Regions from separate parts of the Homo sapiens genome. Here regions 2, 3, 4 and 5 are each reported to be linked to region 1. Evidence: microRNA targets listed by miRTarBase, many of them from high-throughput screens and not tested one by one. Region 1 holds a microRNA gene; each other region holds the end of a gene's coding sequence.
The links. The annotated mature microRNA hsa-miR-6501-3p reads CCAGAGCAGCCUGCGGUAACAGU and lies in region 1 at 3,642-3,664, opposite strand. An mRNA with a match to its seed (bases 2 to 7 or 8) in the 3' UTR can be bound and repressed. Matches are read on the target gene's strand: a 7mer-m8 pairs with bases 2 to 8, a 7mer-A1 pairs with bases 2 to 7 and ends in A, and an 8mer does both.

Region 2: the mRNA of MN1 is a reported target of hsa-miR-6501-3p. Seed matches in the 3' UTR shown: 7mer-m8 at 3,445-3,451 and 8mer at 2,879-2,886.
Region 3: the mRNA of OBI1 is a reported target of hsa-miR-6501-3p. Seed matches in the 3' UTR shown: 7mer-A1 at 3,707-3,713.
Region 4: miRTarBase lists RPL22 as a target of hsa-miR-6501-3p. Seed matches in the 3' UTR shown: 7mer-m8 at 3,329-3,335.
Region 5: miRTarBase lists ATG14 as a target of hsa-miR-6501-3p. Seed matches in the 3' UTR shown: 7mer-m8 at 4,220-4,226, 8mer at 3,797-3,804, 7mer-m8 at 3,737-3,743 and 7mer-m8 at 1,650-1,656.

Annotation. Positions count from the first base shown.
Region 1 is chr21:33,549,264-33,554,368 of GRCh38, reverse strand. It overlaps MIR6501 (microRNA 6501), which reads right to left and starts at 3,707; the gene lies at 3,641-3,707. SON (SON DNA and RNA binding protein) reads right to left here. Exons shown (of 12, transcript NM_138927.4): 3 at 1-4,893.
Region 2 is chr22:27,746,686-27,751,786 of GRCh38, forward strand. It overlaps MN1 (MN1 proto-oncogene, transcriptional regulator), which reads right to left. Exons shown (of 2, transcript NM_002430.3): 2 at 1,592-4,411. The coding sequence ends at 4,230. Among named protein-coding and RNA genes, the nearest start is that of CPMER, 34 kb to the left of the region's middle. RefSeq lists enhancers at 251-751, 2,768-3,638.
Region 3 is chr13:78,610,751-78,615,852 of GRCh38, forward strand. OBI1 (ORC ubiquitin ligase 1) reads right to left here. Exons shown (of 6, transcript NM_024546.4): 6 at 3,539-5,102. The coding sequence ends at 4,830. OBI1-AS1 (OBI1 antisense RNA 1) reads left to right here. Exons shown (of 6, transcript NR_047001.1): 6 at 4,925-5,102. Among named protein-coding and RNA genes, the nearest start is that of POU4F1, 9.8 kb to the left of the region's middle.
Region 4 is chr1:6,182,151-6,187,255 of GRCh38, forward strand. RPL22 (ribosomal protein L22) reads right to left here. Exons shown (of 4, transcript NM_000983.4): 4 at 2,870-4,666. The coding sequence ends at 4,522. Among named protein-coding and RNA genes, the nearest start is that of CHD5, 4.4 kb to the left of the region's middle.
Region 5 is chr14:55,364,820-55,369,918 of GRCh38, forward strand. It overlaps ATG14 (autophagy related 14), which reads right to left. Exons shown (of 10, transcript NM_014924.5): 10 at 1,572-5,099. The coding sequence ends at 4,800. It also overlaps a transcript of FBXO34 not described here. Among named protein-coding and RNA genes, the nearest start is that of ATG14, 44 kb to the right of the region's middle.

The DNA.
Region 1 (5,105 bases):
TAGGAGGGGGAGGTACTTCTTTTTCTCCTCCACTACTTTCTTTAGGGCTGAGCAGAGCTGCTAATGTCTGGTCACTCTCTTTTACAGGTAATGGTTCTTCTGTATCCTTACTAACAAGGTTATTATTAGATGGTAAATCAAGATGAATATCTTTAGCAGGCAAAGGCCCTTCAATGTCAGCTTCACTACCACCACTAGGACTGGTGGAAATTACCATGTCATGTTCAGTATCTTGAGTAGTTAAAGATAAATCAACATCATATTTATTAACTAAACTGAGAGTAGATGCTGTGGTAAATTCAATACCCTTACTAGTTCCTGTTGCATCAGGTTCCAGAGCAAAAGGACCAGTAGAAGATAGAGTTTCTCCTGCATCAGCTTCACTAACACCAGGGTAGGTATCCAATACTGTGCGCTGTTTAGTCTCACTGGTGGGCAAAATTTTCTCTTCACCAATTTCCCCAACAGGACTAGTACCAGCAGCACACACTGTATTATGTTCCATCTCTTTAGCAATTAAATGATTATTTATATTAAGGTCTATATTTATACCATGTTCACTTTCGTAAAAGTCACCTTTCAGGTGTTCCTCAGCATGTGGTTCTTCACCTGAATGCAATGCAATCTCCTGCATGCCAATCTCTGGAGCAAGATTTTGATCACCAGAGGATAGATTAATTCCTTTCATAACATGTGATGACATGATACTAGATTCCAGTATCATTGGTGTGGACTCTATAGCCACCTCAGTTGGTATTACTTGAGTCTGCTCTGAGACTGTGACAGCAGGCTCTGAAACTGTCACAGTCGATTCCTGGACAGAAACAGATGGTTCTGAAACAATCATAGAAGGTTGAAGGACTGACACCGCTGGTTCCAGAACAGGCACAGAAGGCTCCAGCGCAGAAACAACTGGCACAGGAATGGTAACATAGTCTGGCTCAGCCACAACAGGAGGCTCCGGGACAGTCACAACCGAAGGCTCCAGGACAGTTACAGTCGAAGACTCCAGGACAGTCACAGTCGAAGACTCCAGGACGGTCACAGCCGAAGACTCCAGGACAGCCATAGCTGAAGACTCTGGGGCAGCCATGGCTGGCGGCTCCAGAATGCTCTCTGCCAGCACTGGAGTAGTTACTGCTGGAACCAACAAGGATGTAGATACTTCTGAGGCAACATGTCCTGAGGCTCTCATGGAATCAAATGTTTCTGCTGTCTCTGACATAACAGGAGGCTCTGATGCTAACACAGTTGGTTCAGCTGACATGGCGGGAGTTTCAGATACCATACAAGTCACTGGTCTCTCTGGAACAACTTCATGTTCTTCTGCTACTACTGCAGACTCTACAGGTGTTAACGTAATTGAAGATTCTGGCTCTGGTGGTGGTTCTGGAACAGTCACAGCAGCCTCTGATACTAAAACTGAGGGATCTGATGCTGACACTGAATAATCAGTAGGCACTGCTGAAGGCTCCGAAATCTCACTTTGACTCACAGGAGGCTCAGGCTGCGATACAGACTCTTCAGATGGTGATGATGGCACCTCTGTAGGCCAAGTATTTTCAGCTGTTAATGCTGACTGCTCAGTGGGCAATGCTGGACCCTCTGGTGGTTCCTCAGGAGGCAATGGTGGTGTCATTGGTGGCTCCTCAGGTGGCAACGGTGGCATTGTTGGGGGCTCTTCAGGAGGCAAAGGTGGCACCATATATGCCTCTGTATATGTGTCAGTGTAAGAATCGGTGTAAGAATCAGCAGCCATAGACATCATTGAACGATCAGCAGTATAAGATGACATCATAGATCGGTCAGCTGCAGAGTACGATGACATCATAGACCGGTCAGCAGCAGAGTATGACGACATCATAGACCGGTCAGCACCCATGGACATCATAGATCGATCAGCCATTGGGGACATCATGGAGCGTTCATAAGCTGACATCATGGAGCGTTCATAAGCTGACATCATAGAGCGCTCAGCCATAGGGGACATCATAGAGCGCTCGTAGGCTGACATCATAGAGCGCTCGTAGGCTGACATCATAGAGCGTTCAGCCATAGGGGACATCATAGACCGCTCATAAGACATCATAGAGCGTTCGTAAGATGACATCATGGAACGTTCTGCAGCATAGGACATCATCATAGAACGTCTAGATGCTAACATCAGGGGTCTAGGTGCTAACCTATATGGCCTGGGTGCTATTCTATAGGACCTGGGTGCTATCCTGTAGGGTCTAGGTGACATCCTATAGGGATCAGGAGTTAGTCTGTAGGGATCATGGCCTAATCTATAAGGGTCTTGTCCTAACCTGTAAGCATCATGACCTAATCTATAGGGGTCATGGCCCAACCTATAGGGATCCTGAGCTAACCTGTAAGGATCCTGAGCTAACCTATAGGGATCAGGAGATTTTGAACCCAACATAGCAGAATCTTGGGTACTAGACGCTAACATCTGGGCATCCATGGTACCAGACGCTAACATCTGAGCATCCATGGTGCCAGAAGCTAACATTTGAGAGTCCATAGTGCCAGATGCTAACATCTGGGAATCCATTGAGCTAGTTGCTAACATCTGGGAGTCCATGGTGCTGGTTGCTAACATCTGAGAATCCATGGTGCTGGTTGCTAACATCTGGGAGTCCATGGAGCTGGTTGCTAACATCTGGGAGTCCATGGAGCTGGTTGCTAACATCTGGGAGTCCATGGAGCTGGTTGCTAACATCTGGGAGTCCATGGAACTGGTTGCTAACATCTGGGAGTCCATAGTGCTAGTTGCTAACATCTGGGAGTCCATGGAGCTAGTTGCTAACATCTGGGAGTCCATGGAGCTAGTTGCTAACATCTGGGAGTCCATGGTGCTAGACGCTAACATCTGGGAGTCCATGGTGTTGGATGCTAGCATCTGGGAGTCCATGGTGTTGGACGCTAGCATTTGGGAGTCCATGGTGTTGGATGCTAATATATGGGTCTCCATGGTGTTAGAAGCTAATATATGGGATTCTGGGGCCATCAAGGGATCCACTCCTACTGTTACAGAAGTCTCCCCCACTAATGTAGTAGGCAGCTCCTGTGCTACCGTATTATAGGATTCCAGCGCTGTCGTCGAGGGCACCTCCAGGGACTGCGACACGGTCATCGTTGACAGCTCCGATGTTGTCACCACAGACTGAACAGAGATCTCCAGCGCCACAGTTGCCACAGGCTGCCCAGGCAACTCTGGCGCCCCAGGCTGCCCTGGCAACTCCAGCACCCCTGTTGCCAGAGGCTGCCCCAAAAGCTCCAGTGCTCCAGCTGCCCCAGACTGCCCCGAGAACTCCAGTGCCCCAGCTGCCATGAGCGGCCCAGGCAACTCTAGTGCCCCAGTTGCCACAGGCTGCCCCGACAACTCCAGTGCCCTAGTTGCCGAAGGCAGCCCTGGCAACTCTGGCACCCCAGTCACCGAAGGCTGCCCCGGCAACTCCAGCGCTGTCGTTGCCACTGGCTGTCCTGGCAACTCCAGCACCATCGTTGCCTCAGGCTGCCCCAGCAACCCTGTTGCCGTTGTCACCTCAGGATGCCCAGGATGTTCCACCGTTGTCATCCCCACAGGCTGCTCCAACTCTGTCGTCGTCACAGGTTGTTCGGTCAACTCCATTGCTACTGTTACCGCAGGCTGCTCTGGCAACTCTACTGCTGCTGTCACCAAAGGCAGCCCTGGCAACTCCTGTGCCATCACAGGTGGCTCTGGTACCTCCTGTGGTGGCTCCAACCCCATGGATGGTGCTGGAAGCCCTGGCAATTCCTGCGACAACTGTGGCACTGGTGTCACAGAGGGCCCTGGCAACTCAGGCACTGCTGTCGCAGGGGGCCCTGGCAACTCAGGCACTGGGGTAGAAAGGGGCCCTGGCAACTCTGGCACCGGGGTAGCAGAGGGCCCAGGTAACTCCAGCACTGGAGTCACAGGGGGCCCCTGCAACTCCGGCATGGAGGTCGCAGGTGGCCCCGGCAACTCCATCGCTGAGGCCACCGACGACTCCTGCAGCTCCAACGCTGTGGTCTTAGGCAGCTCCGGCAACTCCTGCGGTCTTGTCATGGATGAATCTGCAATCTCCGATGGTACGTCTACAGGCTGCTCTGGCAATCTTAGCGCTTCAATTGCAGATGACTCTGGAAAATCCATTGTTGTTGATGTGCTTGGCTCAGGGTACACCTCAGTAGGTGTCTCTGATGATACCACAAGGGTTTCTGAAGGCTCTAACACTTTTGCTACTGGGGGCTCTACCAACATGATCTTTGATGGCTCTGGAGATGTGCTCTCCACAGATTTCAGCACAGACTTCATCTGATACTCCACTGACATTGTTACAACTGGCTCAGATGACTTCAACACCAGTGTTGTAGTAGGCACTGGTGCTGCTGCAAAGGAATCCAGAATCTTTGTCATGGATGGTTCTGGCATTACTGCCACAGACTGCTCTGACTGCTCTGAGATTACTGATGTAGATACAACTGACAGTTCTGCAGTTTTTGTAGCTGGCTTCAGAGTTTCTAAGATGTGTGGCTCTGATACCTCCATTGATACTACAGGAGGTTCTAGCACAACTGCAGGGGATTCATTGGTCTCAGATGGGCCAAATGCTCTTGTAGGAAGCTCCAGCGCCACAGCTGAAGGTTCAGAATCAAACTTTAAAAAGGAATCAGATTCTAAATCTATGTTCCCATCATCATGAGATTTCGTCTTTGACTCAGATTCTTCTGGCTGTCTTTTATATTTTTTTTCCTTTTCTTTCTTCTTTTTCTTCTTTTTGTTTTTGTGCTTTTTATGCTTCTTTGACTTTTTAGTGGGAATTTCATCAGTAGGATCTGTTTGTACAGATACGCATCTACTTTTTCTGGAGCCCTCTTTCAAGTCTAAAAGTAATAGAAATTAATTTTGTCAGACATTCCCCAAAGTAGAGTTAGATTAAATCATATAAACCCATATTTACATTCCATGTTAAAACACCTTAGTACAGGCCAAGTACAGTGGCTCACGCCTGTAATCTTAGCACTCTGAGAGGCCAAGGCAGGTGGATCATGAGGTCAGGAGTTCAAAACCAGCCTGGCCAGCATGGTGAAACCCC
Region 2 (5,101 bases), not on the chromosome of region 1:
TTTCCCCTCTGTGCCTGGCACTGTGCTCAGGAGTCTTCCCATAGACAGCTCTGTGGGGTCATAACACTCTTTCTGTCCACTCTACAGCCAAGAAAACTGAGGCTCAGAGAGAGTGCACTGCCTACCTCCCGGAGACCCAGTGACTGCAGAGGTTTTTCCACTCAGGATTCCAGCCCCAGTGACAAAGTAACTATGGCAGGTAATCTTCCTAAATGTGTTCTTTGCTCCTGAGATGGGGAATTTCCTGGATGTAATTAAACGTTTTACCAGCTTAATGCCAGTCTGGGGAGCTTCTGTTCACACTCTGCCTTAGTGTGATGTTTTCCAGGGTAGAGTCATTGGAGACACGTGTAAGCTGTTTGCCTCCACACTGAATGGCCGCGCTGCAGCTCTCAATCTGCCGCCATCATTTCTGACTCATCTTCCCGCTCCAACCTGGCATTGGGCGCCCACCTACATTAGCCCTCTGATCTGCTGTGGGCTGTGAAAGAAGGTAACTGCACCTGTTATAATTAGGTGTAAAATACAAGTTCAGAGGTTCTGATTCAGTAGTCTAGCACAAGGCCAGAAATCTGGAGTTAACAAGAGCCCTTAGGTGTTTCTGCGGCCAGGGTTCTGTGGACCATGCTTTGAGAAACACTGAGAGGTAAAGGTGCAAAAGGGAAGGACAGGAATGGTCTGCAGTGGCCTCAGGTCTGAGGCTGCAGATGCCGGAGTGAAGCCACTGCCCAAAGAGTGGCCCATAGGCAAACCGATCCTTTTACAGGGCTGGTGCTCACAGTGAGCTTCCAGCTAGATGTTACTTGCTCCACTTAAGAAACAAAAAAACTGGGGGCTGTAGTTAAGCCGCTTGCCCAAGGTCCATGGCTGTAAGGGGAGGAAGCAGCATGCGCCCCAGGACAGCGTGACTCCAGACCGCCATCGGCTGCCCTGTGGTAAGATTATGGTGCTGATGCTGACGCTTTATGCACATGAAGCCCTTCCTACATGTTGTGTCCAGTGCATTGTCTCCGATAACAACCCCACGAGCTAGACCCCTTTCAAAGATGAGGAAAAGGTGGAGCTGAGAAGCTGCATAACTTGCAGGAGATTCCCAGGCTTACTAGGATCTGAAACTGAACACTAGAACCCAGAAGCATAAGCATCACCCTACACAGCCACTGGGGGGGGCACTTCCGTTGCCCCCTCCCTCCTACATGAGTCAGATACAGGGTTCTTGGCCCCCAAAGGATCTTTCCCCCAAGGAGACATTGGGCAATGTTTAGATAGGTTTTTTTTTTTTTTTTTTTTTGGCATCTAGTGGGTGGAGGCCAGGAATGCCGTTCAACCTCCTCAAATGCCTAGTTGCCCCCCTTACACTCCAGCAAAGAATTAACAGGCCCAAAATGTCAATAGTGCCAAGGTTGAGAAATACTGAAATGACCCAACTTAGAACATCAACACACACACAGACACACACACACAGACACACCCACTACAGCATCCAAACCTACACCCCTACGTCCCATAGAATCTGAAGAGACTGATGTAAAAAGGGGATAGAGTTGGGAGGAAACAAAGAAAGCGAGCCCCACCCACAAATATACCACAGTCACCATTAACGTCATATTTATTGTTATTTAACTGCTCAGGAAAACATATACAGGTATATACAATATGCAGGAATACAGAAGACTGCACTTTACATATTTTTTTAAAAAAGAAAGAAAAAAATAACACTCAATTTCATGAGCTATTGTCACAGTCTTCCAACCAAGCATTTCAGAAATGAATTTCTTTTAAGAGTCAAAAAAGATTACAGGATTGCCTAACACACAGCAGAGTTAAGTTTTCATATTTTACATGTGCAATAACATTTTCGTTTTCTTTCCCAAAGAGTTTGCTATGCAGTACTGATTACCAGTGTTCGGAGTCTAGTGTGTAGGGTGTGTTTTTCATTTACTTTTATTCTTTCCATTAAACCAAATTTAATGAAATAACATCCTTTTGCTTAAGGCTATTTTTAAAGCTGTTTCATTCTGGGGTCGTGGGGAGCGAGAAAGTTTTTAAAACTTCAGGGGTTTCTGAGGTTGCCAGGACCATGAGCTAATTGGCAAAGTGTTGATGACTCAACGCTGGGAAAGTCAAAGACAGAAGTTAAGACACTTTGCTCCCCGGCCTTAAGCAATTAAGGAGAAATCATTCCTGTTTCAAAAGTAAAATGATGAGGCTCTCAAACAGCTGTACACTGCAGAATCAGAGGGGTCATGGAGTCTTGCCCAGAATACGGTCAACTCTCCCACAGCCCATGGTGGGGGGAAATTCCCTTCCCTTTCCATTCCTTTTGTAGCAGAACGCAGGAACTGCCTCGGCTCACACCTTTCTCGCTGATCAATTCATGCCACCTGCTTTGTCTGCCCTCTGAAGGCGGGGTTTGCTCCTCGTCAAGACTGCCCAGGCGAGAACCGCAGACTCAGACCCCAGCCAAAAGGACCGGCAGAAGGAAAGAGGGGAGAAGGGAGGGGAAAGAGTGAGGTTTTTCTGAAAGCTCCTCTCCCTTCGCTGAAAAGTTCTTTGAAATAAACAACGTGGGTGTTGTATGGTGAGCCCAGAGCCTTCAGGTCACTTGCTTTAGAAAGCCCAGATCTGCAAACTCTGAGGACCTGGAGGGGGTGGGGGAGCTCAAAGTGGAGCGTTTTAGTAAGACACGCTCGTTAACAAAAACTGAAATTAAATAGATAACCATCACGGTTATATATTTGGGTGAAGTGATATCAGTTACTTCCTGTCTAACCCACCGGGGAATCTATGTGCCCCCCACCACAAGCCATAAATGGCTTTTGCAGGCATCAGCAGCACCCAAAGTTGCCTGCCCCTGCCAACCACCACTCATCTCTGCTCAGAGCAGTTATTCCTTTGTGAGATGCTTGGGACATGGCTCTAGTTTTGCAACAGGGTGAGATTCCAAAAAAATGTTGGGGAGGGGGCAGAGGAATTCCAGAGTTCAAAACTAAAAGGCGCAGGAATCAAAGTCATTTCATTCTATTCTCTTTCTCTGTCCTCTAGCCCTCAGGAGTCTGCAGATCCCTGCAAAGGCTCAGAGAAGGCTGAGCAGGCTGAGCAAGAGGGTGCCTCATCCCTCCCAGGGGTGGGGTTGCCCAGGCTGGACTGGGGATGGAATGGGAGAGGTGGAGGAGATACACGCAGTCCCCTCCTTCTTCCCTGGGATGCCCGGCCAGGAACAGCTTTCAGAAAAGGGAAAGGGCTGAGAACAGCCTCCTCCAACTCCAGCACCCAAGGCACGGGCAGCAGCCTTGCTCCAAAGACTGCAGGCTGGGAGCACACCATCCCCCATGCAGACCAAAGGCTGCTTAGCACAGCGTGAAAATGCAGGGCCTGGGCATTTGCGAGGAGGCCCAGAAAAGGAGAGAAAACACTGCTGTCGAACATTCCAACTCCTTCCCACAGAGCAGAGCTGGACACGTCCTCACGTCCATCGCAGAGAGGGGCGGCTTCCAGCAGGAGAAGAGAGAACTCAAGTGGAAGGGAACTGAAGGCTGAGCACTGTGTTTGCAGGAATGAAAATATATTTTCTTAGGGAACAGACAAAACAAAATCCCAGGCGGAATACCTAAGAGGGGCATTCATTGTTTGGCTCCTGCCTGACTGATGACACTGGGGTGTCAATATATAACATTGTGATGACAATTGGACTTTCACCCGGCAATATTCCAGAACTACTATTCTCCAGGATTTCCATTTTAATAAGCAGTGAACAAAGCAAAAAGAAAATAAAAGGGGAGGGGGTAAGAAAAGGAAAAAGAATAAAAAAGAAAGCAACTCTTGTCTTATTATGAAATAACAATACTTGGACATACAGCAGCATGAAAACAAAACAAGGAAAGAGGTCATCTAAAAAATGTATGCCAAGATTACCGAAACATGGGGAGTATCTAGAGGAAAAAGGCTTAAGCAAAAGTTTGCTAACTGCAGAAGGGTTAACACTGGTAACATACTGTGGCAGACAAGTTTCTTTTTTAAAAAAACTTTTGAGGTTCCCCCCCTTTAAATTAACCCTTTCCGGTCCATATGCCACTAAGCAGGTACCAACCTAGAGAAAAAAAAAAAACTCATCCACTCAGCAATAGTGGCCCTTTCAAATTAACAGAGGGGTGGGGTAAGGTTGAGGGGGAAGGAAACAGACAGGGGGAGAGGAAGGGCCTGGTAGAGGAGGGGATCTTTCTTGTCATTCAAGTTAGGGCAGCCACGAATGTCCCAAATCTGTTGGAGATGTCAGAATGCAGGGACCGCCAGGTGGGCACGGAGGCTCGAGCCTTGGCGTCACCCACGTCGTCTGTGCAGTGGACAGACAGGCACTGCAAGTGGCTGCCAGGCTGGGATGCTGAGGCCTTGTTTGCAGGGAGGTCGTGGGCTGTGGAGAGAGAAGGAAGAGAGGACATTAGTGGCACACTCGTCTCTGAGGGACACCATAATGGGGGCCAAAGTGGCAGAGGCATACAAGACAGGCACCGTCCACGCCCTCTTTCCATGGCTAAAGCTGGTCCCAGAGGATCTAGAGATGTTGTTTTGAATCTTCTTGCTGTTACCCCTGATTCATCTGTGAGATCTCAGCCAAGGGAAGACCTCCCTGTTGGGCCTCAGTTTCCCCACTGGGAAATAGGAAAGTGAGGCAGGATAAACTCAGAGTTTGCCCATCTCTGATGCACCAGAGTTCCCAAAAGATTAACTGGACGTGATCTAAGTCAGGAATGCTTCCTGGAGGAGGGGCATCTAAACTGGGCATCAAAGGATGTGTAGGAGTTCGCCGCATGCAGTGAAAGGGTGGAGGGGAGGATTGTCTGGGTCCAGAACACAGCCTGTTTGTGTGTCATCCTCTGGAGAGACATTTGCTTAGGGCCTACCACGAGCTGGGAACTTTCTTAAAATGTGCCAGACTGCATACCAACTCCAGGGGGGAAGGATGATCACCTCTACTTTACAGCTAAGAAAACTGAGACTCAGAGAGGGAAGATGACTTGCCCCGAGTCACACAGGAGAAAGTGTGGAGTCACAGCACCCTTTCCAGAGGAGCAGGAAGGATGGAGAAGGTGCCTGTGGATAC
Region 3 (5,102 bases), not on the chromosome of region 1:
GAATCATTGAAAACCATTCAAGTAGAAACAAGAAGTTCCTGAAACATCATAGACTCAAGACCAAGTTGTCTTTTTCAGTAGTCTTTTCAAACCAATGTAGATGGCCAAGAGATGATTGGGAAACAAAGCCGACTTGAAATTAAAGGACTGTAAACTACTGTACCATGTTCTTTTTTTGTGTGTCAGCTAACTCCATAAAACAGGAAAAAGACTTGGCATTTTTGGATGGAATGATTTTAAAAATAAAAGATGAATACTAAGTCATGACCAAAAAACAAACAAAACTGCTAGCATCCTGTCACATTCCCATAGCCAAAGCATTTTAAGCAGTCAAAAGATATTTTTCTAAAAACATGAACTGTCTGCTTCCTTATCATGAGTACATCTTTTTCTATCATAGCCTTAGTGAAATTAACCAAGACAGGAAGGTTAACTTAATCTAAATGTCAGAGTCAGTGTGAATCTATTAAGTGGCACACACACAACTCCCACCGTTGAGCTTCTGTTTAGTAGTCAGACTCAGGAACTAAATGCTACTGTAAAAGAAACATGCTAAGCCCAAGAGGTCAAGGCTGAAATGAGCTGTGTTCGCACCACTACACTCCAGCTTAAGAGCGAGACCCTGTCTCAAATGTAAAAATAAAAAATAAACATGTTAATACTTCCAAAATACTTTAAAAATAATTCTTGGAAAGTTTCAAAGCCCTTTGTCCTTTAGTCTATAAATATGAATTCTTTATTACACAAGGGAGAAGAGCAGAAGCTCTAGAGCCACAGACCCAGCTCCAAGATATGGTTCATATCTATTCCAGCTGTGTTATTACTCTTTCTCGATTTGTTTTTCTGTAAACTGGGGACGACAGTACTTGGTTCACAAAGTTTTAAGAAGGGATTAGATGAAATAAGGAATTAGATGAAATAGAGGTTAACTTAGCAAGATACTTAGTTTTAGTATAAGATAGGGTTGTTTTTTGTTTGTTTTTGCCTGGAGTGTGTGTACATAATAGATACATTTAAAAATCTATGAAACCACCATATTTACCATGACATCACATTATGGTAAAGTGGTAAAGAGTACAAATGAGAATGTGTGATTAAAATAAAATCCTACACAGATTAGACCCTTTAAATAAATGGCACACATTTAATACATGGAATACTGTTTTAGGGAGAATGGAGGGATGTTTCTGAATATAAGCAGTGGGAAAATACCTTAGTCCAACATAGATGCTTTCACCTAGGTTAGTCATTAGTAAATCAGGTTACACACTCCAGATATCCATGTCACAGTGTCAGTGTGTATTTGGACTAAAAAGACACATCCTTGATTACAGATAGAAGTACAATGAGGCTTACCCCTTGTCTTCATCCATCTGTACTGCCATGATGAAATGTTTTGGACTAATTTTTAAACAATACAATTTTATTTCTCATTGTTCTGGGAGGTCCAAGATCAAGGCACCAGCAGATTCTGGTGAGGTCTCAGTATCTGCTTCAAAGATGCTACCTTCTAGCTGTGTCCTCCTCACATGGCGGAAGAAGCAAGGAAACTACCCCAGGCATTTTTTTTTTTTTTTTTTTTTGCAACCTTGCTCTGTCACCCAGGCTGGAGTGCAGTGGTGCGATCTCGGCTCACTGCAACCTCCGCCTCCTGGGTTGGAGCCATTCTCCTGCCTCAGCCTCCCAAGTAGCTGAGATTACAGGCGTCCGCCACCACGCCCAGCTAATTTTTTGTATTTTTAGTAGAGATGGCATTTCACTGTGTTAGCCAGGACGGTCTCGATCTCCTGACCTCGTGATCCGCCTGCCACGGCATCCCAAAATGCTGGGATTTCAGGCGTTGAGTCACTGTGCCTGGCACCCAGGCCTTTTTTATAAGGGCACTAATCCCATTCAGAGAAAGCAAAGCCCTCATGACCTAATCACCTACCAAAGGCCCCACCTCTTAGTACTATTACCTTGGGTGTTACAACATGTGAATTTGGAGGAACACAGATTTAGATCATACCACCCCTAAATTTAACCTGTGGCAGAAAAATTTTAATTTCTATATTTGAGTTTCTAACGTGTAGTCATATTATCAAAGACATTTAAAGTGCCAATAGCTCTGAATGTATCCATTAGCTTTAACATATCAGAAAAATGATTGGAAAATATGTAACATAAAACAAAATTCTGCTTTAAATTAGCTCTTTCTGGCTTTTTTTTTTTTTTTTTTTTTTTTTTGAGACAGAGTTTTGCTCCTGTTGCCCAGACTGGAGCGCAGTGGCATTATCTCGGCTCACCGCAACCTCCGCCTCCTGGGTTCAAGCGATTCTCCTGTCTCAGCCTCCCAAGTAACTAGGATTACAGTCATGTGCCACCATGCCTGGCTAATTTTGTATTTTTAGTAGATGGGGGTTTCTCCGTGTTGGTCAGGCTGGTCTCGAACTTCCGACCTCAGGTGATCGGCCCGCCTCCGCCTCCCAAAGTGCTTGGATTATAGGCATGAGCCACAGCGCCGGCCTCTGGCTATTACTTCTATAAGTGGAGGACATGATTCTTCAAATTACAAATGTGAATTGTCACTTTTATGGTTTCATTGAATCCTCAGTCTATTATAACAAGGGTCGGCAAACTTTTTTGTAAAAGACCAGATAGTAAATATTTTAGATGTTGTAGGTAATATGTAAACAAATGAGTGTAACTGTGTTCAAGTAACTTTATTTAGAAACAATGAAATGTGACTTTAATATAATTTTCCTGTGTTATGCAATAATCTATGGATTTTTAAAAACCTTCTACAACTGTAAATTCCATTTTTTGCTCACAGGCCTTTCAAGGGAGATTTTTAAAAAAGATTAAAATGCATAAAACTGAATTTTATGATTGGCCAGGTGTGGTGGCTCAGCACTTTTGGAGGCTGAGGCAGGAGGATCACTTGGGCCTGGGAATTCAGTACCAGCCTGGGCAACATAATGAGACGCTGTCTCTGCAAAAACTAAAAAATCAGCCTGACATGGTGCATGCCTGTAGTCCCAGATCTGTGGGAGACTGAGTGGGGAGGATGGCTTGAGCCCAGCCCACCCGAGGCTGCAGTGGGCCATAACTGTACCACTGCACTCCAGCCTGGGAAATAGCCGCAGACCAGATTTGGTCCATGAACCATAGTTTTTCAATGTATTATAAAATCAATTAAGAAATGGTAGTTTTTTGTAATCCCAGCACTTTGGGAAGCCAAGGAAGGAGAATCACCTGAGGTCAGGAGTTCGAGACCAACCTGGCCAACATGGCGAAACCCTGTCTCTATTAGTAAAGTACAAAGATTAGCTGGGTGTGGTGGCAGGTGCCTGTAATCCCAGCTACTCAGGAGGCTGAGGCAGGAGAATTGCTTGAACCTGAGAGGCAGAGGTTGCAGTGAGCAGAGATCGCGCCACTGCACTCCAGCCTAGGCGACAAGATTGAGACTCCGTCTCAAAAAAAAAAAAAAGTAGTTTTTCCTGGTCTTTATAGGCTAATTCAATATACGAGACAAAGAATCATCATCGACATCAAGGAACACAGTGCTTATGACATTCTTTATTCAATTCACATAGAAAAGCATGCAGTATTAATGTAAAACAGTACAATATTAATGTAAAATGTTCAGTGCACATTAAACAGCATACATACCCATTTTTAAAGACCTATATAGGCATACCAAATACGTTTAGAACAATACACTTTTTCAGAGCCTAAATTAAAAATTGTGCTTACCTCTTACCTATCTTCACCCCCTCAACACTCTTCACAGAAAAGTTTTGTCCTACATAAAAGATATTCTATCAGCCAACTGAAACCTCTTTTTCTTAAGTATGGAAAACACAGCAAGCAAAAATGCTACCATGCATAGTTTCCACAAAGAACAGGAACATGCAAACAAGAAACATACTACTCAAAAGAAAACTCCCCTGGAATGCAAGTGGATCAAGAACTTGGCGATGAGCTCTTTCAAACCTGTTACATCTGGAACAATGAAGCTATGATGTTTTAGGTTCCTCTAAACCCAAGTGCTCCATGCCTTCTTTCCATAGTATGCTAAATTTCTGATTTTACACACATACACACACACGCAGAGGAGAAAATGTAAGCTACCTAACATAAAACAAATGTCTTCATATAGAAAATGTTTTCTTTCATACTAGCAGAACATTTTCACAAAACTGGACAAAACACAATGCTAAAAAATGCAAACATATACATAAAACCTAAAAAAAGAAAGTAAATCAATATTGGACTAAGGCTAGAGTGCTATTTCTCCATCATGGCCCTGCAGAAAAACTAGGCCATCACTAAACATAAATAAAAAGGGACAGGTAAAATAATTTCCACCCTGGGAAAAGCTTAAACTCAAGTGTCTTATTGAGCAGTGTATAGACAACACTAAAAGTTTTATTTAAGAAATCCAAGTTCTGAAGACAAGTGGGGCTTATCAACAGGCCACTGTATCTAACAGTTAAATAACATTTTTTAAAAAAACAATGTATATCCAACCGAGATACATATCAAATTCAGTAAAAAAACAAAACCAAAAACAAAACCAACCAACCAACCAACCCCAAAACACAAAAATAACCTCCTCCCTAACTTCTCTGGTCACAAAGACTCCCAAATAAAAATGAAAAGAACAAAGTCTTTTCAAAATGAACAATAAGTATTCTGGGTACAGGTTAATCCACCATCCTGACTTGATACTTGACTAAAGATTATCAATTCCAATTTGTATAGAACTTTTATGAGGAAAAAAGGTAACTTTAACAACTTTTCTATTTCTCTCAGGACAAAACCACAAATGACACCTTTCTAATGAGTCAACTTTTAGTTGCTTTTGATGGGCTGGCACTGGAAAGGCTGCTCTGGATTTTTCTTTTTGTTGATTGATTCACATTTTTATTCCTCTTTTCAGGCACAAAGGAAGTAGACCAAGGAGACTGAAGGTGGTTATGAAGACTGTGCATCTCTGAGGACATCTTAAACAAAGATGACCCAAATCTTTGATCTTCAAATAGTCGATGTGAACTGCTTAACAAAATGCCCTGGGAAAACTCTGTCTGAAACAAGCAGCTTGGGGGTTTGATTTCATT
Region 4 (5,105 bases), not on the chromosome of region 1:
CCGCCTCCCGGGTTCAAGCGATTCCCCTGCCTCAGCCTCCCCAGTAGCAGCTGGGACTACAGGCGCGCACCACCACACCTGGCTAATTTTTTGTATTTTGGTAGAGACAGAGTTTCACCCTGTTGGCCAGGATGATCTCAATCTCCTGACCTCGTGATCCGCCTGCCTCGGCCTCCCAAAGTGCTGGGATTACAGGCGTGAGCCACCATGCCCGGCTCTCCAGTCATTTTTAAAGGTGAGCCCTTATTATTGTTAAACTATTAAATGGGTATTTTAATGACAACGGACCAAAAATGCATGACGTTAAAAGCAATCCCTGAAACTTGCAACTCTGCGTTGCAAGAACAAGCCTATCATTAAGGTTACTGTTTTAGGAGACAAGATTCTCATGTTTGCTGATCATAGAGCTCATAATTACACCTCAGTGACAATTCCAAAATCAAAATATTTTTTAATATACCGGTTACAAAAGCATCAAGGAAAAAACTTTTTTCGGCTGGGTGCAGTGGCTCACACTTGTAATCCCAGAACTTTGGGATGCCGAGGCGGGCAGTCATGGATCACCTGAGGTCAGGAGTTCGAGACCAGCCTGGCCAACATGGAGAAACCCCATCTCTACTAAAAATACAAAAATTAGCCGGGCATGGTGGCGGGCGCCTGTAATCCCAGCTGCTCGGGCGAGTGAGGCAGGAGATTCGCTTCAACCCAGGAGGCAGAGGTTGCAGTGAGCCAAGATTGCGCCACTGCACTCCAGCCTGGGTGACAGAGCGAGACTGTCTCAAAAATAGAAAAAAAAAAAACTTTTTCCAAGAACAGAGTGGAAAAAGCTCATCGTCTTCTGCACATACCATACTCAATTTCCATTCCAGGACTAAATGAACTCCTCATCCAGGAACCCCCAAGGCCTGCCTGAGGCCATTTCGTTCAACAATGCATATCCACGCTGTGGCCACCTGGCACCACCAGCTTCTCAAGGGCAATGAAGTGCTTGTACATACACCACCTCACAGCGAGTCACATAGATCAAAACTCTGCCCCACACCTCCTCCTCGGCAGGGGTGAAACGGCGTCACTCAGGACCGCAGTGTCCTCTGCAATGAAGGCTCAGTGCCCACCTGCTGCACCAAGACTTTCGTTGCACTTGAAGGCTTTTTCCGAAAGTGTGGACCCTGCACCACCTGAATTCAAATCAGTTGGGGTTGCAGGGGAGGAAGGAGCTTCTCAAAAAGGCAGCCCTGGGCCATGGCCCTGAACCTGAGAAAATCCTTGTGTAAGCCTGAGAACGTTTTATGGGTGTTCTCTGGGTTCTAGCTATGGTGGCAGCTAACTCACTCCGCTGGTCAGCACAGCCTTTACAGACTGTTTTAGCTGGGCCCAAAATAGCCTGGGGGAAAAAAAAGAATGTGTATTCTCAAATCCATCCCAAAGACAAGAAAATGGCTGGATGAGAAATTCAGTTTCCTGTTCCTAGAGATAAGCACTATGATTGCACCGTTTAACAGGCAGTCCTCACCTCCTTCCTGTAGGTGGAGGGCTACCTCCTTGCAGGGATGGCAAATCCCCACACCAAGCCTCTCTTCTACCCTCTTCTCCCTCAAAGAGAATCAACCCCACAGTTTATTCCACTAAATACAGGCCCATCACCACGACTCAGCGAACAACCTGGGCAGGTGCCAACCCAGGCTCTCCTTCAGGGACCTGGCCCATCTCTCACCGCCGTGGTGCCCCTACCCTGCAGCTTCTGACTCGTCACCCCAGTATTCTGTCCAAGGGTTACTGGGGAGATGGTCTGTCCCCTGGAACTGCCAGATCTGTAACTGTCCCACATCCTAGGTCCCCCTCTCCTGTGGGAGGTCTTGGTTTACAATACTTGACAAGTTTAAGGGTCTGAGTCCCATGTACAAATGGAAAGTGAAATCAGGTGTCAACACCAAATTCCAGGCTCCCCTGACATCAATGACTTCAACAGCCGGACCATTATTCCCCATCACCAGGGTCCTTATCACCCTCCAGGAAATCAAGTGTCCCCTAAAAAGGCTGAGCTCTAGATAGCCCCAGATATCAACTGTCTTAAGACACTTGGTATTATCCAACTTCCTCACTTTCCCCGTGTTTCTGACCACCTCTGTGCTACACACCATTCATGAGCAAAGTTAGGACCCACGTATTTCAACACCTGGCTGCTCCTGAAAATGTATGAGGACAACAGTCCTCAAAACCCAAACACTTCACCACTGGAAGTGCCATGGGAAAAGGGGGATCAGAGGCTTTTTGGAGGGAAAACATGAAGCCTTTAGAAGTGACTAGTTCGTAGCACTTAGTGACATCAACAAACCTCATTTCCTCAGCTGTACCAGCACACTCGAGGGAAGGGCGTGAAGGTGTTGTGTAACTGGCATTGGCTGAGACGAGACCAACCTCCTGTTTCCGGACTCTTATGAACTTAAATCACGGCTTGAAACTCTCCACGACCCCAGTCAGCCCCTGTGCCTCAACTATTTTCGATCAGGCAAGTGAGGTGTGAGTCAAAACAAAGGAAACTGGTCTACAGTGTGCTTTGGGCGCAGCTGGTGTCATGGTTGTGATGGAATTCAAGTTGACACTACCTATTCCCCATCAGAAAACGGCATTTGCTGGCAAAGTTGATCCCCAGACTCTGGATCTGGAGAAATTCTACACAGAGTTCAGTGACAGCCAACCCCTGAATCTCACTGCGGCAAAACAGCACAACTAAGGGAAGAAAAGTGGAAATAAAGGACATCTTTTCTTCTAAGCCTAATAAAGACCAACGTAACTGTTGGTACAGCAACTAATTCGTGAGGACAAAGCTTTTCTTCACATGCCAGTCCTTAAAAAAAACAAAGCCTCGTACAGTAAGAGTAGCCAGGTGTTAGCCACTTTAATAGAAAATATGATCAAAACTCGATTACAAGAGTTCAAAAAGACATAGAAAACCAGTGAGTTTCAATTTTATTACAAGTTTTCAAATCTGGGACTAGTTTCTTTTTTTCTTTTAACTGAAATGCCAACTTCAGCCCAGGGTTTTTTCACAACCAAACTAAAAATGACTTACTACATGGGAACATCAATGCAACAAGTAGAATTTGTAAACTCAAGCCACAAACTTAGTTAATAATCATGGTTAAGGGACATTGCCAAAGAGCAACTGATGCCTCAGTGAAGTTTGAAAGAAACTCTGCTTTCTGTGACGGCAGAGAAGAAATATGCAAGCAATTCTGCTTCAAAGAAATTTGCATAGAAATGGAAAAATGCCAGAGCCTTTAACACAAGTGAAATTGCAAAGCCTCAACACGTTCAACTCAATCCACAGAGCACCAAATGTTTAATGGGAGCCAAGGTAGGACTGAGCATTGAACTTCCAGCTATGCAACTCGCAGGGCACAATTTCAAGTGTGGAAACCATCTGTAGGCAAGCTCTTTTAAAAACATGAATTTTAGACACCGTAAATTCTAATGCAGACACTTTTGCATTACTGTTTGAATTTCAGAAGGGCACCACAAGGCACCAGAGTCTTTCAAAGTCACTCACAGCAACAATTGCATTTTTTTCCCAGCCTTGGTAGCCCCTTTCAGTTGTCTAGCCTCTGCACTGTGGCACACCACTGACATTAAATCCAGTCATGGCCTAAGTGGCATGAGGCAGCTATTTCCAGGGCACCTCCCACCTCCTTGGCATGGGAGGCTTCCCAGTCACTCCTCCTTCGTGTCCCCTCTTTCAAGAACCTCCAGAGCTCTTGGCATCAGGGGCCCCCATTGCTGGGCCCCACACGGGAGACCACATCTGGAAGCACTATTCCTACAGCTCCCTCTGCTGGAGACGAAAGTGACAGTTTGTTGCAAAGACCTGTAGAAACATTACTTACACGTTCATTTCTGTACACATTTAGTTAATTTAGAACCTGGGACTTTTACAATCGATTCCCCAAACCCCTTTATGGCAGCAACACTGAAGGAGCACAGTTTCTCTCTCTAGGAAGAAGAGGATTAGCAGACATAATTGTGTGCGTCAAGAGAAATTTGTAATCAAAAAATGAAAGTAAGACGAATGGCCCAGAAACCCGCATTTTATTGACAGTCATTTTCCCACAGAGAATCTTAGAAAGATGTCGCGTTTTCTTTTAATGAATGAGAGAAGCCCATTTGTATCCCTGAATCATTGAGAAAAGCAACAGATACAACTGACAGTCACACTTTTTAAAATCAAACAGTCACTACCTTCAGCCCACACCTCCACACCCGCATCTGCCTCCCCAATGGCTGTCAGTTCGGTAAAGTCACCCTCTCCTTCTACTCTGGTATTACCACGAGAATTGAAATTTTTAAGCAGAAAAAAAAAGAAGTCAAGTTACAAATAAATGAGTGGCGAACCAAGGGAAGCCCTTTGACTATGATTTCCAATTTTCTGTTCAATCCACACTGCAGAGATACAAGGATAAACCACCATTTTGGTTCCCAAGTTTTATTCAAGAACTCATACAAAATTTTCCAGATAAATGAAATTTAATCCTCGTCTTCCTCCTCTTCTTCGTCCTGGTTAATCTGGAAGTAACGTAATTCGTAACTCTCTTTGCTGTTAGCAACTACGCGCAACCAGTCACGTAGATTATTCTTCTTCAAATATTTTTTGGTGAGATATTTCAAATACCTGCAGAGAAAGGACACAAGAACTCCACTAGACAGTTGGTGCTTGCATTCTAAAACATTTTAACATTTATAAAACCCAGCACTCAAAATCATTACAATTCAAGGTGTTTTCCCAAGCCTCAAAAATGGCAAAGGTAAGGCAAATACACCCAGCCAAGGCTCTGAGTTATCAGCCACGTACCATCGACATCGGCAGTAACAATTAGAATAGCCTCAGCATGGTGGCTCAGGCCTGTAATCCCAGCGCTTTGGGAGGCCAAGGCAGGCAGATCACTTGAGGTCAGGAGTTCGAGACCAGCCTGAACAACATGGTGAAACCCCATCTCTACTAAAAATAAAAAAATTAGCTGGGCGTGGTGGTGCACGCCTGTAATCCCAGCTACTCGGGAGGCTGAGGCATGAGGATCCCTTGAATCCAGGAGGCGGAGGGTGTAGTGAGC
Region 5 (5,099 bases), not on the chromosome of region 1:
TCAACATCCCAGGCTCATGTGATCCTCCCAGCTCAACCTCCTGAGTACCTGGGACCACAGATGCACACGACCATGCCTGGCTAATTTTTCAATTTTTGTAGAAATGGGGTCTCACTGGCTGGGCGCAGTGGCTCACGCCCGTAATCTCAGCACTTCTTTGGGAGGCCGAGGCGAGCAGATCACGAGATCAGGAGATTGAGACCATCCTGGCTAATGTGGTGAAACCCCATCTCTACTTTAAAAAAAAAAAAAAAAAAAAGCCAGGTGTGGTGGCAGACACCTGCCTCAGGAGGCTGAGGCAGAATGGTGTGAACCTGGGAGGCAGAGCTTGCAGTGAGCCGAGATCGTGCCACTACACTGCAGCCTGGGCAACAAAGTGAGACTCTATCATCTCTTCTATCATCTCAAAAAAAAAAAAAAAAAAAACAAAAATGGGGTCTCACTATGTTGCGCAAGTTGGCCTTGAACTTCTGAGCTCAAACAATCCTCCTGCCTTTGGCCTCCTAAAGTGCTGGGATTTCAGGCATGAACCACTGTGCCCCGCCCTAAAAAAAATTCACTTCAACTATCTAAGCACTGGAAAATACTCTTTGCAGTGTATTTTCTTACCAAGTCGGCTGGTGGTGGTTTTCCTCATTGAATTTCAAGGCTGAGGTGCAGATGGCTTGCCCAAGAGTCCAGTTTCAAGTTTTCTGGTACATTTTATTGATGCAACTTTTAAATAATCTCCCCACTACCAATGACAAAGTTATCCTTAATTCCTCCCAATCTGTTTCCTGCATCAATCATGACATAACTCAGGATGGAGAAATCTCCCTTTAAACACCAGATGGGAGCATGCTTTAAACTGCTGCCTGGAAAGACTGAAGGACAGTACCACCAAAGCACACACCCTGTTCGAGAACCCTTCCGTTTCCTTGCCTATTTCCTCCTGTTGCCTGCCAGCCTTCTGCTCCAGATAAAGGGGCAGTATGACCATGGCAATAGCTCCTGAGGGTATCCTGGCTGGCCTGGCTCTTCCACAGTAGTCACTCTTGGTATCTTCTCCACCACCTGCAGGTGGTCCTTCTCTACAATAATCTAATCTGAAGGGTACCGCCGACTACCCACCTGGGAGAAATTAGTTATAAAAAATAAGGGTGTTGGGTTGGGGAGGGATTCTCCAAAGCTACTCAGGCATCTGAGTGGTTCCAACATTTCCCTTTTCCTCTTGTCCTGAAGAAAGTCTGGGCAGGTTCCACGTGGGCATCCTAGAGGCCTTCTGCCCCAGGGGTCTGTTGCACAAAACCAGGTCATTGTAGGTCACATGCATCAAATGATGGCTACCAAAGAAAAACACGTCTTTAGGGAAAGTATGCAACCAGCTTCTCAGCTTGGGAAAGATCATTGTTAATACCACCATAATCCATAATTTTAAAAAATATATTAACATTTTTTCTTACCTGGCAAAAAAATTCTACAAACTTCTTCTATAATTTGTATAAAGTACTCCAGGGTTCAATCTCATTCTTGCTACCCTCGATGCAGCAGTGCAAATGAACAGTTTGAAAAAGACATACACATGAGCAAAGTACTGTTAAAAGATTTATTGCAGTAATACAATAAAAGTTTAGAAAACATTTGTATGACTCAAACTGGTTTGGAAGTTGCAGAGCAATGGGGAATTCCTGCAACATGATACTGTGAGGAGATTCTCGGACACTAGTCCTCTAACAGCATGCCACTGAATGCTCTTCCCCAAATTGAGTCCTTACATGAGTCCCGTCCACTCTACCCAATGGTGATATACTGTTTTTCCCCCTTACAGATGTGCAAAACTTTTCTTATATTCCATAACCAAAAAATGTCTTTAACAGACCATTTTAAGCAGCCTGTTTGGTGCCTGTGGGTTTTTATTAGTATTACTTTGTTTCAGTAAATCATTTTAAAATGGAAAACATGACCAAGTTCTATGGCTTTTTGTTTAAACAAAATACCAGCTTCAATTTTTTAAAAAGCTGTTTACATATGGTTCTGGCACCTACATGAAAGATTTTAATGAGCAGCAAAAAGAGTAGAAAAAACAGTGGTTGAAATGTATACTTAAGAGTATTTACAGGGTGGATCCAGTGCAAAATAATGAAACCCAAAATATTTCAGCAGTGTAAGCCAGTATGTTGGTGTTCAAAACCACAAAAGGGTTCGATCACTTAACCCTATGTAAAGTGCCTCTAGTTGATATTAACAACAACAAACAAAATATATCCTATCCATAAAGTTCCCACATCTTTGTAAATTTTGTGGAAGTACTCTAGATGAGTTTGTGATCTCTGGATTCTATTCTTTAGCTTCATCTCTCATTCATGGTTTCATAAGAGGCTTAAGAAAACCATGACTGTTGTGCATCTCTCAGCTGAAGTCAGTCTCCACCACCAAGCTCCAAATCCCACTCTTACAACTCGTGAGACTAAGCTCTTACTTCTGAGGGTTTTAAGTAGCTAGACAACTCTTACAAGATCGTTAAGTTTATTTATCTGTTCAAGTCTACCATCTTCACTCTCTACGAACTCCAGAACTGGATGGGAAAATGGAAGCCCAGCAATCAATCATGAAGCTGAGCACTTAAAACAGAGATCCCAGCAGTGTAGAAGAACCCATAAGGGGCCGGGCGCGGTGGCTCAGGCCTGTAATCCTAGCACTTTAGGAGGCCAAGGCAAGCGGATCACCTGAAGTCAGGAGTTCAAGACCAGCCTGGCCAACATGGTGAAAACCCCCGTCTTTACTAAAATACAAAAATTAGCTGGGCATGATGGCAGGTGCCTATAATCCCAGCTACTCGGGAGGTTGAGATGGAAGAATTGCTTGAACCCAGGAGATGGTGGTTGCAGTGAGCGGAGATGGTGCCACTACACTCCAGCCTGGGCAGCTGAGTGAGACTCCGTCTCCAAAAAAAAAAAAGACCACCCACAACGAGAAAAGCCTACTTCCTCCTTTCATGGAAAATTCATAGAGCCAAGGAATTTGTGACTACCGGATAGAAATAAACTCCGTTCTGCAACTCTACCCAAAACTATACAAAACACCAAATATACCATTAGCAAAAGCTATATAGCACCTCGGACTTGGAGGCAAAGTATCAACTACAATTATTATGATGAGAAAAGAAGCTGGGGCATGGCAAACCTCTGAATGATTTATCAGAGGTGCTATCATGCCAATCACATAAGATATGGTAATAATGCCTGTTAGGACTCTTTCATAGGATTTCTTTTGGTAGTTGTTACATAGGATTTTTTTGCAGTTATTAAAAATAAACTACTTACATATTTGTACATAATGCCTCTCTCATTATAGTTTTCTTGTAAGATTGTCACTAAAAGAATGACAAGACACGTGAGCTGAAAATGATCTCCTGCTGAGGGAAATTCTTTTTTTTTTTGAGACGGAGTTTCGCTCTTGTTGCCCAGGCTGGAGTGCAATGGCACAATCTCGGCTCACTGCAACCTCTGCCTCCCGGTTCAAGCGATTCTCCTGCCGCAGCCTCCCGAGTAGCTGGGATTACAGGCGTGCGCCACCACACCCGGTAATTTTTTGTATTTTTAGTAGAAACAGGGTTTCACCATGTTAGCCAGGCTGCTCTCAAACTCCTGACCTCAAGTGATCCGCCTGCCTCGGCCTCCTAAAGTGCTGGGATTACAGGCGTGAGCCACTGCGCCTGGCTGGGAAATTCTTTCTTTATATTGTGCTTTCCCCAGAACAGAGCAGAGTAGCATCAGCCGTAAGGATCTGCGCTGCATTTCTGAGCAAAGCTGTGTCCTCAGAGCAACAAAGAGTTCGGGGAAACAAGTAGGATGGTTTCCCCTGAAAACACCTGCCACCTACTCAATCCCATAGAAAGAAAGTGGACACCACAAGAATGACCAGAGGCCACTTAACTAAGTGGCTTTTCCCCTGTGCCCAGGCAGGCATTGAGCTTACATAAGGGAATGACCTTCATGACTTATTTTCACCCAGAAAATATAAGTTCAATTTCAAAATGCTCATAGTGTGGATGGCAGGAATTCAACTAGGTAAGAATAAGCTTAATTCCCCTCAGAATACAAGAAAATAGTTAAAAACTCTCTAGACATTATTGCAGCCAGGATTTCTTCCATTTATGGATGTGGGTCCTAAAGAAAAAGACTTTCATTTTCTTTGGTGTGTGGGGGAAAGAAAAACAGGAATGTCTGACAAACTACGACAGAGCAGCATGAATAAAATACGTGTAACTCACCCCTCCCAAACAAAATCAAAGGACCAAATTAGAAATTTTAAATTGCCTGCTGGTTCTCATACAAAAAACAATGGCAGAAAAACTCTTATTAAAGAGCTTTTATCTTTCATGTCCTAATAATCAAGAATCACCTCTTGTGATTCAACCAACCTCTAAAACTTAAAGTGTCAGGAACAGTCTCAGCACCGCAAGGACCAGCACACTGACCCATATCTGTGGGCCCGGTGGCCCGGGCCCAGAGGGAACCCAAATCAACTGCTTCCTTGGCAGAACTGGCCACACGCACAGGTCCTCCTTCCACCAGCACTGGTCTGGGTAGAAAGACCTTCGACCCCTGTTCTCTTAATTATCATAAGCATGTTGGTCACCATCACAGGCCACTTGGCAAATAGAAATGTTTGTCTCCCTGCTTAAAAAGACAAAACAAAACAACACTTTAACCTCTTTGTTCCAGACACTATCTTAACTTAAACAGAAAATGTTTACTAGAGTGTAGTGGGAGAAGAACTTTCTTGATGCAGATTTGGTATGTTTTGGTCCATGCTCGTTAACGGTGTCCAGTGTAAGCTTTAAACCAGGAGGTCACCGAGGCTGCTGCAGAGGAGATCATCCCACCTGCACTGCTGCTCGCGATGGGTGGGGACGCCTGGGTGCTCTGACTCTGGGAGACTTCCACAGACTGGGAAGGGATATCACAAAACCGGGGACTAGGCAAGTTCTCCCAGTCTGTGCCCAGGTCGGTTTCTTCATCGCTGACGCGCTCATCTCCGCTCTCATCTGATTCTCCAGCAACTCCGGGATCCACAAATTCCATGGACTCCTCAAGGTCTGCTCGTACTTCAAAGGG